Regions from separate parts of the Homo sapiens genome. Here region 1 is linked to region 2. Evidence: fine-mapped expression QTL. A gene starts in region 2. The other region holds a variant in brackets. All regions are shown on one strand. Distances are between the middles of the regions. Region 1 overlaps EHD4 (EH domain containing 4). Region 2 holds the start of SPTBN5 (spectrin beta, non-erythrocytic 5).

Region 1 (8,676 bases), 56 kb before region 2:
TTCACAGAGTGGGCATCCCTCACAGTAACTTTTACCAGCATTTCTCAGATTTGTGTGGAATGTGTAAGAATTGATCAACACGAACATTTCTAGGCTATTAGGGATACAGAGGTTTTGATGGAGAAACTCTTGAAGATATTTTAAAAATTAAAGCTGAACACATTTTGAAACGGTAGCACCTCCTGAGCCCAGCTTTACTCCAGGGAGAGTAGGGAGAGCTGGCCCTTGTTGTCAGGGTAGCCAGAGGACCGTGCAGGGGGACATTGTGGAGAGCTCTTCCCCTCAGCTGAGAGGAAATGGGGGTCCTCGTCCCTCATGCCAAGTGACACACCCTGGGATGAGGCCCTGAACTTTGCTTTGCTCTTCACCCCTGAGCAAACCACTAACTTGAGGCCATTTCTGAAGACAGTGCAAGTTCTGGAGTCTGAATGCTTGCATTCCATTTCCACTCGAACATCCGCTGTGTGACCTTGGGCAAGCCGCTTGGCCTCTCTGATGCCCCAGTTTTCCCACCTGTAAATAAAACGAGGGTAATGTCATCATCCACCTCAGAGCATGAGGTGAAACAATATAGAAGGCTCAGCGCCATATCAGGAATATAGCAAGCACTCAGTAAATGCCGTGTGCTATTAGCAGATTTTTTTCTCTAAATTTAGAGATAAAAGATATCATCAGATTTACTGTAAATTTAGGAGACATATTTTAATGGTGTATCTATTCTGGGGTGCCACAACTTCACAGAAACGTAGAAACTTTGGATGAAGTGAAAACTAGCAATGACATCAATTAAAGGTTTAGAATATAGCCCGTTAAGGTTGCTAAACAATTTCAGTTTTAGGCCAGTTGCGGTGGCTCATGCCTGTAATCCCAGTACTTTGGGAGGCCAAGGTGAGGGGATAGCTTGAGCCCAGGCATTCAAGACCAGCCTGGGCAACATGGTGAAACCCTGTTTCTACAAAAAATTAGCTAGGCATGGTGGCATGTGTCTGTAGTCCCAGCTACTTGGGAGGCTGAGGCAGGAGGATTGTTGGAGCCCAGGAGGTCGAGGCAGCAGTGAGCCGAGATTGCACCACTGCACTCCAGCCAGCCTGGGCAACAGAGCAAGACCCAGTCTCAAAAAAAAAAATTTTTTTTCAGTTTTATTTACATAGAAAACATAGGTCTAAATGGTGGCTTAATTTCTCATTCTTTTAAAGATGGAAAAATTGTATTTGGCATTTGATAGAATTCAGCACTTTCTCTCTTTCCCTGGAAATAGTCACAGATTGTGGGCTTACATTAGAATCAGTCAAAACTTTTTAGAAACAAAGAAGTAGTTTAGGACCAAATAGATTGTTAGTTGCAGGAATGGGGAGCTGCAGAAGGCTGTGCAGGTTTTTTCCCTTGAGCCCCTTCAAGGCTTATAAGACGAAGATCATCCTCCTGGCATGGTTGGGACATGAGTCTGCCCTCATCAGCTCAGACACCTTGCAGGGCCCATAAACAAGTAATTGTAGTACACATGCTGAGCACCACGCTGGCAGCAGGCACAGGGTGCCCAGGGACCACAAAAGAGGTGTCCCCACATGCAGGTCAGGGAGGCTCCCCTAAGGGAGCTGAGCCTGAGCAGAGCTTCCAGGATGCCCAGGAGCCAGCACGGTACACTTCCCTTGGGGTAGCGTCTGTTGCATCAACAGAAATGCAGAGGAGGATTGCGTGCTTTTCTTGGGGGTTATGTTTCTACGTTTTTAAATGATTATGTAAAAAAATTGGTAATCCCAGGCAGCTTTCTGGCCTCTTACTTTGTGATAAGATGCTAAGCTTTCTCTTCTTCTTCCCTCTCCCAGATACCTACTGGAGCAGGATTTCCCAGGCATGAGGATTGGTCCGGAGCCCACCACAGACTCCTTCATCGCCGTGATGTATGGAGAGACTGAGGGCAGCACCCCAGGGAATGCTTTAGTCGTGGACCCCAAAAAGCCGTTTAGAAAGCTCAGTCGCTTTGGAAACGCTTTCCTGAATCGGTAAGGACCAGCAAGCTGCCATCTTCGGTCAGGCTGTTTAAACCTTTTCTTTGAATTACTGCCAGTTACATATAAAGGTTCAAAAACAGAAGAACAAAGAATCTCTGCTCTAGAAGTCATACAAAATATGTTTATCATATTAAGATATTTGAAAGACTATCATAGGAAATAATCATTTATGCCTATTCTGGGTAACTTGAGAGGGCAGAGCTAAGGCCCAGAACTGGACATTATAAGGCTGCACAGGGCCAGGTGTGTGGCTCGTGCTTGTAATCCAGCACTTTGGGAGGCTGAGGCAAAAGGATTGTTCGAAGCCAGGAGTTTGAGACCAGCTTGGACAACGAAGTAAGACCCTGTCTCTGCAAAAAATTTTAAAAGTTAAAAAATAAAAATGCTTACAGTATAAGGAACAAATTTCTAATAATTTGAGCTGCACAGAAATGGATTAGGCTGCCTCATGAGGCAGTGAGCTCCTCGTCACTGGCAATGTTAAGCACTGGTTAGACAGACACCTCTCAGGCATGGTGCGCTGGGCTTCTGCAGTCAGAGAGCTTAGCCCAGAGGACCCCTAACCTTCACCGGACACTCGGATTTTACCCACTGACTCCAGAACAGGACCCCTCACCTCCCTGGCTGTCCCTTTTGCTTCTCACTCCCAGCTTTGAGCTGTTTCCTTATTCATCAGAGCAGGGCCAGGGAAACAGAGTGAAAAACATGAAAAGCTGATTTTCTTACGTGGTCGTTTTTTTTTTTTTTTTTTTTTTTGCGGGGGGGAAGATAGAGTCTCATTCTGTCTCCCAGGCTGGAGTGCAGTGGCATGATCTCCGCTCACTGCAACCTCCGCCTCCCAGGTTCAAGCAATTCTCCTGCCTCAGCCTCCCAAGTAGCTGGGATTACAGGCACCCACCACCACACCCAGCTAATTTTCGTATTTTTAGTACAGACAGGGTTTCACCATGTTGGCCAAGCTGGTCTCAAACTCCTGACCTCAGGTGATCCACCCGCCTCGCCTTCCCAGAGTGCTGGGATTACAGATGTGAGCCACCACACCCAGCCTACGTGGTCACTATTTTATAGATGTAAAGTTGTGGGGTCACTGAGGTTCTGCCTCACTTGGAGATGTGTTTTATTTGTACTCCTCCCATAACCTTTCATTAGAGTTCCCAGTGGAACTGAGGGCTGCTGGCCTGGGGAAGACAGGCCAGCTGGTACCCCTGGCTACAACTCTGCCCTTTCCCACTGGATCTGCCTTCCTTCCTCCCTCCTGCACCTCCTATTTGCTACCCCTTGCGTTTGTGTAATGCTTTTTTCTTGTTTCCTATCATCCCTCTCCCACCCCTCTATTTCCCTCTTTCCTGGGTCTAGCTTTCGTGTGGCTGATTTGGAGGAGTGGGTTGTAGGAGGCACAGAGCTAGGGAGGGTCATCCGAGCCTCTTTAGGGAGAGGAAGTAGCATTAGAGCTGACAGTCCACATCTCCTTTCTAGAAGTTTTTAAAAATAGGAACGGATCCTCCCAGCCGGCTGCTGTCCTCCCAAAGGCCGAAGCGCCTCATCGCGCAGCTCCAGGGGCACCATTCATGTGGCCTGGGGAATGAATGATGTGCTGGATGCTGTGCACTGGCTCGGCTGAGGGCCACCCAGGCCCCTCCGCAGGTGCCTTCTGTGGAAGATGGAACTCTCCGGGGAGCTGAATTCTCCATTAGGGGCTTTTTGATGATCCTATTGCAAATCAAAGAAAGCAACCAGGGAACTTGGCAGTGGGATGAACAGAAACCTGCAGGTGATGTGGAAGGAGTCCCAGAGGAGTTCCATCTTATTACTGATGGTGATAGGAACACTGTCCAGGTGATTTTTTTCCAACCTGCAGGGCTGACTTTTCTAGGAGGAGTTTACTCTTCAACTCCAGAGCTGACTTGGTTGGCACCAGAGTGTCTCATTGTGGGAGAGGGGGTTAAGCCCTGGGCGGGAGAACCCCAGAGGGTCAACTCTCCAGATCTCTCAGGACAGAGTGGCCCAGGGTGGAGGGGAAGTAGACCAGAACAGGAGGCCCCAGAAAGTTCAAGGCACAGGATCTGTCTCTGTGGAAGGCTTCCCTGGGGTCCTCTGGTTTCATTGCCACTGCCCTTTGTCTGGGGCTCTTTTTGCCCAACAAAGGCTTAA[C/T]GAAATAAGCTGCCAGTTTTTTCAAATTCCCACTTTGTGAAGTCTGAATTCACAAGGGAGAAACCAGGAAGAGTGGTTATTGGCTTGCTTTATTTTGGCAAATGATTTACTTTCCTAACAAAAAAAAAAAATGTTTTTTTCTTCTCAAATCCCAAGCACATGACAGATGAGTACAGAAAAGAAATTTTTAGGAACGATTTTGAATGGCAAAGCTCTTGTCTCAGAATTTAAAACTTGCTGAAAATAATCCATGCCTTATAATAAAAGCAAGTGTCAGTTGAATTCAGAATAACATATAGAAAAATAATAGCAAATAATTATATGGCATTTATGTGTCAGATTCTGTTCTAGACTTGTGTATTAGCTTTAAATCCTCACAGAACCCCTGTGACATGATGCTACTGTTATCCTCAATGGAGGGGGAGGAATCAAGGCATAAAGAGGTTACTTTAATTTCTGGGGGTCACTCCACCAGTGAGATCAGTGCTGGGACTGGAACCCAGGCCAGCTGACCAATAGTATGATGTTTGGACTGGGAATCACTGCCCAGTGCCCCCTATTTAACTCTTAGGGTTAGGGTTAGGGTTAGGGTTAGGGTTAGTAAGGCTGTTCCTAATGTAGCCCTCCAGTAATGATGATGAAGATGACGGTGATTATGTCCCAAGTCATCACTTACGTAATTTCATGTACATTATTCTTTTGGCGTTGATAACACAGACAATACTGTTGCCAATCTACAAATGAGAAGGCCGAAAGCAAAGACATGACTTGCTCAGGGAGAGGCCATCAGGAAGAGGCAGAGAGGGGATTGGAATCCAGTGTTCCCCTTCTCCCCTGTCCCACACCCTATGCCTCTGCTCAGCATCGGCCAAGAGGAGTTTCTGTCCTTCTAGCCAAGTGTGTGTCAGGCTCACGTGTAAGGGACATGCCTCATGTAAACTCATAGCTACTTAAGAGTAAACAGCCTCATTAAGTAGTATCCACAGGACAGTGCCACTGCATCACACAGCAGTTATTTAAGAAAGAGTCAATTAGTTAGGGCGTTCAAATATGTGTACATAATTATAGCTTCCGTCTGGGAACAGCACAGGGTTAGTACTAGAGGCAAACCTCTTTTCACATAGCATACTTCTCTGGGAACTAGGTCAAAATGTAACACCTAGTAAAGAAAATTGCTTGTTTTCTGCGGAGAACTTTCTCTCCCAAGCAGCCACACCAGAATCTCCCTGTGACAGATCGTTATTACCTGGCCTTCTCCTTAAGGAGTGCTGGCTTGGGCATCTGCCCCCAGGGGCATCTTTAAAAGAGTTAAGTACCAGGTGATACCTGGAGGGGGACAACACCCTCCACCATTAAGCAAACCAGCAAAGCCCGAGTCACAGCCTCCCAGGCTGGCTTCTAAGGAGCGACAAGGGGTCTATGGTGCATTTCTGAGAAATGAAGATAAATTCCTAAAAAGGTTTATATTAGAGAAATTCCATACTTGAACAATAAAAGGAGTTTAGAACACACAGAGGTCTATGGAAATGGCTTTAGTGAGACATTCTGAAACTCTAGCAGACTGCTGTGCTCACGACGAATTCCTCAGTGGCCCATCTGGGAGCAGCTCTGGGGAGGTGCTTGTTGACATTCCAGAGGTTGCTATCAGGAGGCAGTTGCCCCTCACAGAGGAGGAGACAGCCAAGGGCACCCAGAGCATTGGATCCTCTGAGACGCCAGGGAAGTGCCAGGCATTGGGGTCTGACATTTCCCCTTGCAGTCTGCTTTTGAATAAGATGTTATGTTATTCCTCAGTCTCCTTTTCTAAAAAATGGTAATGTGTATATTTTCAAATTCAGATAGCTGTAGACATTTTTTGTCTAGGATCTAGTATTATTTTAAATTGTTATCTTCCACAGAAGAAATTCTTAATCTCATGTACTTCCTCATTGCCTCTGTTTCTTTCTAAAAAATAACTTGAATCACTGGCCCTGGGAATTGAAATTTTGAAACTTCCCTTTGAGCTGAAGGAATGTGAACAGCCCTTCCAGGGCTCAGTCATTTTAGCTGGGCCTGATGATGGTGATGATAAACAACCACTGTGTTATGCTTGAATGGTGATTCCCCCATCATAAAATACGCAGGTGTATTATTGACCTTCTACTCCATTTGTTACTTCTGTATTTGTAATTAAGCGAGGCTTCACTCAGTTTAGCTTTTGAGTTTTGATTTTATTTTATTATTATTATTTTTTTGAGATGGAGTCTTGCTCTGTCACCCAGGCTGGAGTGCAGCTGCGCAATCTCGGCTCACTGCAACCTCTGCCTCCCGGGTTGAAGTGATTCTCCTCTCTCAGCCTCCCGAGTAGCTGGGATTACAGGTGCCCACCTCCATGCCCAGCTACTTTTTGTATTTTTAGTAGAGATGAGGTTTCACCATGTTGGCGAGGCTGGTCTTGAATTCCTGACCTCAGGTGATCCACCTGCCTCGGCCTCCCAAAGTGCTGGGATTACAGGCATGAGCCACCATGCCTGGCCAAATTTATGTATATGTATGTGTGTGTGTATGTGTGTATATATATATATATATATATATATATATATATATAGTCTCACTCTGTTGCCCAGGCTGGAGCGCGGAGGCACGATCACAGCTCACTGCAGCCTCAACTTCTGCTCCAGCAATCCTCCCACCTCAGCTTCCCGATTGCTGGGACGACAGGCGTGTGTCACCATGCCCAGCTAATTTTTGTATTTTTTGTAAAGACAGGGTTTTGCCATATTGGCCAGGCTGGTCTTGAACTCCTGGGCCCAAGCAGTCTACCCGCCTTGGCCTCCCAGAGTGCTGGGATTACAGGCATGAGACACTGTGCCTAGCCAAGTTTTGAATATTTGATAGTCACTGTGTACCACTGGGAATTTTTAAAAACTGACTTACTAAAGTTCACAGCATCAGTCCAAGCACGTGCGGCTTCCCCCAGCCAATTTAGCTGCAGAAATTAAGGAAAACAGGCTTTTGCCAAGAATGACTCTTGATTCACCAGCAAAATAATTTTTTTTTAATCTGAGGGAATAACTGGGTTGTCTTGTGCATGTGTATTGTGGTTCATTTATCTATAATAAACTTGCTGAAGCTTTCCCCATTATTCTTTAACCTCAAGATTTGTTGGCCAGCCACGGTGGCTCACACCTATAATCCCAGCACTTTGGGAGGCCGAGGCAGGCCGATCACTTGAGCTCAGGAGTTTGAGACCAACCTGGGCAACATAGCGAGAGACCTTGTCCCTAAAAAAATAACAATAATAAAAAAGATTTGTGGTGGTTCCCTGGGTGGTAGTTCCCTGGTCACTAAACCATCGTGGTTTTTTTTTTGGAGGCGGAGTCTTGCTCCATCACCTATGCTGGAGTGCAGTGGCGCAATCTTGGCTCACTGCAAACTCTGCCTCCCGGGTTCAAGCAATTCTCTGCCTCAGCCTCCCGAGTAGCTGTGATTACAGGTGCTCACCACCACACCCGGCTAATTTTTGTATTTTTAGTACAGACAGGGTTTCACTGTGTTGGCCAGGCTGATTTGAACTCCTGACCTCGTGATCCACCTGCCTTGGCCTCCCAAAGTGCTGGGATTACAGGCGTGAGCCACCGCGCCTGGCCTAAACCATTGTTCTTGACTAGCAGCTGCCTGTACATTTCTGGTCCTGACATTCCAGAAATGCCTTTCTCCCTGGGGTCAGGCAGACCTTCCTGGCTGGGCCATTGCACTGGGCTTTCCCCTGTGGCAGTCAGGAGGGGATTTATAAAAGTACATATTTAGGTTGAACCATATGAAATTGGCAGTCTTAAATAATCTTTAACCTTTAAAAGTGGTAATTAGTTTCAATCTAATAGGGCAACCAGGGGCTTTGCTGTAATCTGGATGTGAAATTCAGTTCCTAGTTCTTCCTAGGCACTGGAAGATAAGATTAGCCATTTGTGGTAGGACCATATAATAAGAATTATTACAGTTCAGTTGTCAAAGTCTTTTTTGTGGGTTGTGTTCTATTTACTGTGCAAATTTAGGAAGTTGTATTATCTCTCTGGTTTTACCCTCATCAATAAAGTGGGCTGGGGTGAAAAGAAGTACTTTGAAACAATTCTATACTCTCTCCGCTGTAAGCTTAGGTTTATTTGAACCTAATGGCAAACCTGGAAGTCCGCAGGCCTGGTAGAATTGCTCAGAGAGGTTTAGAGACCTGTGCAAGGTCAAGGTCTCAGAATGAGTAAGGGAGACGTCTGGAGCCTAAATCTCCTACCTCCTGTTCCCCACCCTGACAGACACTCCACACCACTAGGTAGAGAGCAAACCACACAAGGAAGCCTCTTAGGGGCAAGTTCCAGGGCTGTGGCACGTCACCCCTTTGTTTTAGGATGTTGCCCTGCACATGATATGCCACACAGCAGTGGTTCCAGTGTGTGCCATGGTGATAGTAGCCCAGGAGTGAAGAACCTGGGCTCTGCAGTCAGCACTGCCAAGTTCATGTCCCAGCTCCATCACTTCT
Region 2 (8,676 bases):
AGTAAACCTCTCTGGACTGCTGCTCAGACACCTGCGTCAGGTGGAGGTGCCTCCCCCTCTGTGGGCACCAGCTTGGGGAGGTAGGTGACTTTTCCTTGCAAATCTCCCTGCCTCATCTCCAGAAAATTGCATACCTGCATGGCCTCTCTGCATTATTTATGCAGGAAGAGACACGAAACAGCAATGGCCACATGGTATGGGGGCCTGCTGGCACCAGAAGTGAATGAAATCAGAACCGTCCCACTGAGTCTTCCAAAAGGCACATAATTTTTTTTTTCTGTCACCTGCCTTTGGTGACAGGGTCAAAGGCACAGATTGAAGAGAAAATCTTGATTTGGGAGAAGCATTTATATCCAGATGCCTACCCTTACACTCCCTAGCTTACTTTCTACATAATTTAGTTTTAAGAGCAGGAAATGCATAACATGGTTTTTAGTCTTAACAAGCACTTAAATTCATTAGACGCATAGAAAAGAACCATTTATTATTTTATTATTTTTATTTTTATTTTGAGAGGAAGTCTCTGTCACCCAGGCTGGAGTGCAGTGGCGCAATCTCAGTTCACTGCAACCTCCGCCTCCCAGGTTCAAGTGATTCCCCTGCCTCAGCCTCCCAAGTAGCTGGGACTACAGGCACCCGCCACCACGCCCGGCTAATTTTTGTATTTTAGTAGAGATGGGGTTTTACCATGTTGGTCAATATGGTCTCGATCTCCTGACCTCGTGATCTACCCACCTCGGCCTCCCAAAGTGCTGTAACCTAAGCAGACAGTTCTGTGAATGCGTGAGGACCACCTGAAGTCTGCAGCCACGGTGGAGGTCACCAAAGGGTGAACTGAGAGAGAAGAGGGAATTCACTTGCCCAAAGGTTTACAGATGCCCAGGCAAACTGATTTTTCCATCCAGAATTATCTTGTTCTTTAACTCTCCTCAATTGTCATATATAAACATGAATTTATATACATGTGTGTCACATGAGTATGTCGTTTTAAAACAACGTGTACATATGTAAGTTTTGTCTGGATACAGAAAGCTGCTTTAGAGGGCAGCAGGTTGAGGTCTCTGATTTCTCCGTGGAGGAAAACCTCTCAGGCACTGTGATCTCCCTACCTCTGCGCTCTCAGGTGGGAGAGGCGTCAGGCAGCGGAGTCCTTTCCCTGCTGGCACCTGGTAATGTTCTTGGAGAGAAAGGAAAAAAAAAGGAAATCATTTGGCCACTTTTCTTAATATCCTCTTACATGCAGTCATTCATCAAGAAAAGTTGACTGGAAAAGAAAACACTAGAAAATATGAGGGATGGCGACCAAGTGAGGACTTGTATCTTCCCAGGACCAGTACAAAGTTCTGTGAATGTGTCCACACCACCAGCTGTCTCCCTACCCCACACGGCAGGGCGGCAGGGCCGACCCTGGGGCCTGCTCACCATCACCGTTGCCCTTCCTGCACCACCCCAATTTTCAAAGAACCTCTTCCACAGAGTGTTTATGTATAGGAGAGAGGGTGGAAGTACCTAAACTCTAGAACTACAACATCTAAGAAGCTGAGGCCCTGTTTTCTACACAGCATATGGTATCGCATAACACAAACCTTCCGGTCTTGAGTTTAAAGGGAAAATGAAAACTCCAGCCTATTGCTCCCACAGTCTGCTTCCAAGTTGTCAGCCTGCCAGTGAGGGTCTCCTGACCCCGTTTGTAGAGAAACACTGCACTAAGACTTGGGAATCTCCCCAGCTCCCAGGGAGGGGTGGCACACAACAGCCTTCCAACCTGCTTCCGCCTCCTGCTCCAGCCCTGCAGCGTCTGTCAATTCATTTCTCAACTCACCGCACTTGGATGGCCTGGGGGCAGGGTTGCTCTTCTGGGGGAGGGTCATTCATTCAGTTGGCTTTTGGCTTTCCTTTCTCCGGGCTGGGCCTGGTTCTCTTTTGAACACTTGTCGTGCTGCAGCAAGAGCATCTTTGGATTTGGGGCTGTGGAGCTGTGGTTCACCCGCGGGAGTCACAGCCGCGGCCTGGACCTTTCCACCTCGCACCCTCGCTCACCCTCCTTCATGATGCCTGGAGGATGCCTGAGACAATTGCCTTGAAGATGAGGAAAGTGTTTCACTGTTTATTTTCTCCATGGGATGTAGCAGGCAAGCATGCTTAGGACAGAAAACCACTGAGTTTACTCAGGTAAATGCGGGCCTAATACAAGAGTATTGGGTTCCAATGTTGGTTAACCAATGCAGTTAATACGCAATGCTTCTATTTTTTTTCTTTTTGTAATCTTATTTAGAAGTTTCAAACAAAAAGACATAGTCTGCTGATCAATAAACATGGAGCTGCCCTCTCCCACTGGCTCATTTTCCAGTGGCTGCGTGCTGGCCTCTCGGAGCAGAGTGTGGATCCCTGGATCCAGGTTGAACCGGGGGAGAAGAGTTAGGGAGAGGGTGTGCCTGTGAGCCCCAACTCTTCCTGTGGAGAGAAACCCAAAATGCAGCCGCTTCAGAAGGAAAGCGGCCCCATCAGGTGGGGACAGAAGAGGGTAGGCAGCAGAGGCCAGGTCTGTGGACAAAAGCCCCACTTCAGAGTGGTTGGAAGCCAGGACAGGAGGGACTCATGGAGGTGACCGCTTCACAGGAGTCCTTTCTCCAGTCGTGCTAGGGAGGAGCCCCTGCCTGTCCAGCACTGCCCCTGCCTCTTGCTGTACCTTGCCAGTGTGCCCTCCCCCCGCCCACTACCATAGTAGGCATCTGGCTTTTCCCACCAACCCATCTACCTTTTTGGTGGTCCAGACCTACAGTCTCCTTGCAGAGCACTCCTCCTCCCACCCTCACTTCAAGTGAGGTTTGGATGAGATTGACCACATCCCCTTGGTCACAAATATTGGCTCAGGAATGGACATGTGGCCCTGTTCAAGCCTATGAGAGCCAGGACCCCCAGACTTATGTTAGAACTCTTGAGAGAGATACTCTGTCTTCTCTGAACCTTGCAGTATATAGAAATGAGCCTATTGATGCAACAATATAAATGGCACTGAGAGGGGTGTCCAGAGCTGCTGGGGTCAGGGGAGGGAGGTCAGCCTGGCAGAAGCCATCTTGTGGAGCATGAAAATGAAAGAGACCTTGAGAAAGGCCAGAGGAATCCAGGCCTGTGGTGACAACATTTGAGCTGCTGGATCAAACCTCACCTGAAGTCCTTCCTATTCCTACTAGATATTTTTTTCCACTGTGTGGGCCAATGCATTCCCTTTATACTGTGTAAGCCAGGCATGGTGGCTCACACCTATAATCCCAGCAATGCAGGAGGCTGAAGTGGGAAGATCGTTGAGGCCAGGAGTTCAAGACCAGCCTGGGCAACCTAAGAAGACCCTGTCTCTAAAAAAGAATTAAATATAAATAAATAAATAATAAAAATATAATGTTTAAACCAGTTTCACTTGAGATTTTAGTTACTTGCAACATAAATAATCCAAACTTTGTTCCGACCCACAGGGTTCTCATTTCACCAGGGGCTGCAATCAGTCGTGGCCAAACAGGAGCCAGTCCTTGCATTGTATGCAGTGGCTTTAGCTGCCGTTGAGCTAGAAAGGAAGAAAAGCAGTCCACAGCCCCCGCCAACAGCTTCAAAATGCCAATCCCTGTTGAGGTCTATGTGCGAAGCACCACGCAGTTCAGTCTGTCCTCCCCGCTCACAACATCACACAGGACTCCACGGGCCGAGCAGTTCAGTCTGTCCTCCCACGCTCACAACATCACACAGGACTCCATGGGCTGAGGGTCTTACTAGGAGAAGGAACAAGCTCAGTCTCCCTGGGGTAAGCGGGTGGGATGAGGGACTTCCTAGAAGAAACAGGATTTTAACTGGGGCAGGCAGGATAGGTGAATGTGGATGATGGAGAATGGGAAAGGACGTTCAAAGCTGAAAGAGCAGCTGAAGCCCAGCCTTGGGGCAGGAGAGCTCTGGTCCTGCTCAGGAAATGGTGAGTGGCCCATGGAGAGCACCCAGAGTGAGGGGGGCAGACTAGCCTGGTTAGGTAAGCTGGCAGGCTTCCAAGGCCTGGCTGAGGCAAGGTCTGGCAAGTCTGGATTTTCCTTCCCAGGCTGTGGGAGGCTTCACAGGCACGAGCAGAGCTGCACTGTGGAAAGGTGCGGGGTGGTGGTGTCCAGGATGCCGAGTTAGGGGGTCCGTGATGAGGACCCCCAGGGGCAGTGAGGGCAGAAGGGGGGGTGCACGGGAGGACCGCCACAGCAACTGCTGCGAGCAAGGGAGGGACGCAGGGTGTCTGGAAGCCAGCCGCTGCAGAAGGGGCCTGGCAGGGAGAGGACAGCAGGAGAGGAAGCGTCTCTCAGACGCAGGAAGCCGCACCCCACCCGAGACCACGGCACCTCTCAGCGTCACCCCTGACTGCCTGCAGTGGGCCCAGGCGGTTCAAGTGTGACTCATCCCTAGCCCAGCTCTCAAGGGCGCGCTGAGCGGCTGTCCTGCTGTGGGCTGTGGCTGCCAGGAGCGCCTCCCTGAGGAGCGGGCTGTCGCTTCAGAGGCTCCAGGGCCGCTGGAAGACACCCACACACACACACCCCAGCCCACACTGCTACCCTGAGTTTAGCCAGAGGCGGGTGAGACCCCCAGAATTAGAACTCGCCTTCACTCTGGCATGTAGTCCACGGCTGCTCGGGGAGGAAGGGATGGGCGCCCACCAGCTCCCTCTGCACCCCTGCCTCCGAGCCCCGGGCCACGGCCAGCTCTGTGGAGCCCAGAGTTAACACCGTGTCTCTAATTTTGGAGGAGACTCCACAGCCCTCGCAGTTCCAGGTCACCCCTTCCTCCAGGGAGCCTACCCTTCAGCCCCGGGCTAGGCAGGCTGCACTCTGGCAGGGCCTGGAAAGCCAAGCCCAGGGTCTGTGAGGCCCTCAGTCTATGGGCTGTTCCCTGGGGGTGAATGAGAAGACCACGGCCCAGGACGCTCCCTCATCCCCTCGCCCTGGGTGCTCACAGAGAGGCCCCAAGAGGGTACAGAGGGCAGTCTCAGATTGGGAAGTGCGTCCACAGGCTTCCCACAGAGGCTCTGCCCTTTGGTACCTCCTACGCAGACTGCAGCACCCCATGCGGTGGCAGGGCCGCTCCATGGGCCTCTGCGTCCTGGGAGCCAGGACCCCCACCTGGAGTTGGAGAAGTTGCTGGCGGGGAAGGGAGGATGATGAAGGAGGACATCATCTGGCAATGGCCCTGGAGCATTCCTGAACCACCCCCTCCCTGTCTGGGCCACGCCCTGTGGCAGGTGGGAGGACAATGCCGCCTGTGTGCCGTCACCCCAGCACGCTGGCTCAAGGGGAGGGCTGTGGTGCAGCCCTGCTCCAGCCTTGGCCTCTCCTGATGTCCCTCTCCCTCCCTCCACAGCCCCTGCTATCTGCCATCTCCATCCGTCCAGCTGGGCCGCCTCTGTGGAACCCAGGCATCACCAAGGTAAGCAGCCCCTGCTATCTACCATCTCCATCCGTCCAGCAGAGCCGTCTCTGTGGGACCCAGGCATCACCAAGGTAAGCAGTTTCCTGTCTTCCTTCCACCTGTCCCAGTCACTGTGGTGGAGGGACCTGGCAGCAGGGGCTCTGAGAAGAAGAATCTGGAAGGTGGGGTGGGGCAAAGGGGGCCCTGGGCCATTCAAGCACAGGGGACCAGAAGCACTGGCCCTTACCTGGCTGGGCTCCAAGCTGCAACCCCCATGAAATGTGAGGACAGTCTGGCAAGGCGGGACCCCAGGCCCCTGGTAGAGGGGCCATCTCCATTCACATCATCCCCTAATCTGCATGCCCTCCAGGTTTAGGGAGCCATCCAGCAGCTCCTCATCCCCAAAGTCTGCAGGGCTGATGGCTGGTCAGCCCCACAGTCCCCGGGAGCTCCTCGGGGCTGCAGGGCACCGCAGCAGGAGGCCCAGCACAGAACTCCGGGTCCCGCCCAGTCCAAGTCTCACCATGGACTCTCAGTACGAGACGGGCCACATTCGCAAGCTACAGGCCCGGCACATGCAGATGCAGGAGAAGACTTTCACCAAGTGGATCAATAACGTCTTCCAGTGCGGCCAGGTGAGTATAGCCAGCTGTGACCCACAGCCCACCCATACCAGGCCCCCAGCTCTGGCCAGTGGGCCTCCGGGGTGAGCTGTGGGGTCATCTGCCTGAGGCCAAGCTGAGGCCAGAGCTCCTTCTTCCAAAGCAGCTGCTCTGGGTCGTACCTCTCAGGTCCCAGGATGGGAGGACAGGTGAGGCTGGGCTGACCCCATACTTACCCCTGTCCCCTCCCCAGGCGGGCATCAAGATCCGGAACCTGTACACAGAGCTGGCTGACGGCATCCACCTCCTGCGGCTGCTGGAGCTCATCTCAGGGGAGGCCCTGCCACCCCCGAGCCGGGGCCGCCTGCGTGTGCACTTCCTGGAGAACAGCAGCCGAGCTCTGGCCTTCCTCAGGGCCAAGGTGGGCCCCAGGGAAAGGGGTCTGGGATGGTGCTGGGGCAGGCAGCTGGGACAGGCTGAACTACTGGGTCACCTTTCCTGCGCCAGGCCACTGGGCAGAACAGAGGAGCTGGGGCCTGAGTACAGGAGGAGTGGCTGGGACACAGAGGAGCAGAAGCCACGCCCTCCTCGCACAGCACCCCTGACTTGGAGAGCACCCAGCTGGCCATGGCAGTAGCAATCCAGGTCCCTACTGGGGTGGAAAATGTCACTGTCTGTCATAAGAGAGACTCACAGGATTCTAGGCCAAAAGAATCTTAGCGTTCTCTTAGGCTTTTCATTTCACAGATGAGGAAACAGAGGCCCTGAATTATTTACCAGGCAAGATCGATGGTTAACCAGCCAACAGAGCCCAGATGTGGGACTAAGACGGCAGGTGGGGAAGAGGAGCAGGGCCTGTCTTGGAGAAGGAGGGAGGAGGCCTCAGCAAATGGGGGGAGGCAGAGTCACCTGAAAGAAAGGGACAGGCTAAGGAGATGGGCACTAAAAGGAGGCCGGAGCTCCAGGGACAGAGGGACCCTCATGGCCAGGGTGAGGGGCTGGTGCAGGGGTGGGGTGGGGCAAAGGGATCATTGGAAACCGGGAACTGTGAAGGCCAAGGGCTCCTGGAGGTGGCTGTCCCTGGAGGCTGTGAAGTCACTGAGCTGGGCCTGGCTGGATGGAGCCTGACTGTGCGTGCCTATCACTATATCCTGGAGTGGAGCTTACATCCAGCCTCCTGGGGTGTGTTGGAGGAAAGCCAGGGAGGGGAGAAGCCCAAGCAAAGGGAATGGGAGTGACTGCTGTCCTGAGCAGGTGCAAGAGCAGAACGCTGCCAGCTGCAGAATGCTGGGCCCTAGTTGATCCAGGGACAATGACCCTGTGAGCCAGTCATCTCCCCTCCAGGAACTGGGGAAGGGTGTAAGCCCCACAGCCTTTGTCAGAGGTGTTGCAGCTCTCCCCAAGCTTTAATATACAGCATGTCACTGATACCTGTGAGGGTGACATCCTTGTCTCCATACACATAGGAGGCAACTGTGGTCTAGAAAGGATGACGGAGTTGCCGCAAACACACAGGGAATGTGTGGCAGAATGAGGGATGCATTCGCTTATGGAGATGCTCCCATGCCCTGGGCATTCTATGCAGGCGCTGGGCTCCACTAAGCAAAGCCCAGACCCCCACCTCAAGGCACCTGGCTTCAAAGGGAGACAGATTCATTGAACCCAGATCAGCGGTGTGCTGGTAAACGTTTAACAAATGATTCTCTGGGGGAAATAAAAACTCCAGTGTGCTGTATTCGCTGATCCTATGGCGTTAATACCCCCCATCACGGTGAGTTTAAGCCACCAGCGTGACATCGCTCAATAGGAAGTCAGGAGGATAGGCTCTCAGGAGCTGGGAGGAGCAGACAAACACCCCACTCACCAGAGGCTCCAACTCTAAGCCAAGGTGATTGACATGGCAGGTGGAATCCACCCCAGGAGCATGGGTGGGATCCTTTAGAGGCCAGCCAGATATACCAAAGTTTACCTAGGGGGACACCCAGGATTGCAGCTCCTCCCACAGGGCTAGTAGTGGCCGGCTGAAGCCAGTTGCCCTTCAGGTCTTATGGAAAGTCTCACTCCTTTTCTTTCTCCATTCAGTACTTACTGATCGATTGCCTGCTGTGTGCCACTCCCCTAGGATACACCAGAAAACAAAGCCAAGATCCTCACTTGAGCAGGGCAAGGGGATCGAGAGTGTGTATTTGGGTGGGAGAAATAGTCCTTAAGTTTCTGTGTTAAATAAAGTGGTCAGGCTAGGCAACATCTGAGTGAAGAGTTAAAGGCAGGGAGGTGAATAGCCATGCAGATACCTGGGAGAATACTTTCAGACAGCAGGCACGGCCCTGCAAAGGCCTGAAGTCCTGTGCTTAGAATCCCATGGAACTATAAGAATCCCATGGGCCTTGGAGCTATGTGATTCCACAGGGTGGAAGATGGAGCCACAGGGGGCTGGGGGCCAGATCCTGCAGGGCTTCTCCCCTTGACTCACCCATCCTCCCTGTCCAAATGGCAGGATGTAGGGCAGAGGAGTCTCAACTTTGGTGTACCTAAGAGCCACCCAAGGTGTTGTTCAAGTGCAAATTCCCAGGCTCTGGCCCAAGACAGTCTGACTGGGTGGAGCCTGGGAGTCTGGATTTATAGCTGGCCCTGTTGGAGCCGGAAC

What was found. PIP is the estimated chance that this variant, and not a neighbour inherited with it, causes the effect.
Region 1: its variant is the best candidate, but not a certain one, in a credible set for the expression of SPTBN5 in putamen (GTEx, PIP 0.56).

Annotation. Positions count from the first base shown.
Region 1 is chr15:41,947,091-41,955,766 of GRCh38, reverse strand. EHD4 (EH domain containing 4) reads left to right here. Exons shown (of 6, transcript NM_139265.4): 2 at 1,827-2,003. It overlaps LOC124903477 (a long non-coding RNA gene), which reads right to left. Exons shown (of 2, transcript XR_007064603.1): 2 at 1-513. Among named protein-coding and RNA genes, the nearest start is that of EHD4, 21 kb to the left of the region's middle. The variant C/T (reference allele first, on the strand shown) is at 4,164.
Region 2 is chr15:41,890,668-41,899,343 of GRCh38, reverse strand. It overlaps SPTBN5 (spectrin beta, non-erythrocytic 5), which reads left to right and starts at 5,291. Exons shown (of 68, transcript NM_016642.4): 1 at 5,291-5,445; 2 at 5,798-6,062; 3 at 6,283-6,450. The coding sequence starts at 5,847. It overlaps EHD4 (EH domain containing 4), which reads left to right. Exons shown (of 6, transcript NM_139265.4): 6 at 1-3,411. LOC105370792 (a long non-coding RNA gene) reads right to left here and starts at 6,567. Exons shown (of 4, transcript NR_135681.1): 1 at 6,266-6,567; 2 at 4,008-4,117; 3 at 1,823-3,764; 4 at 529-1,177. RefSeq lists enhancers at 6,447-6,506, 7,700-8,575.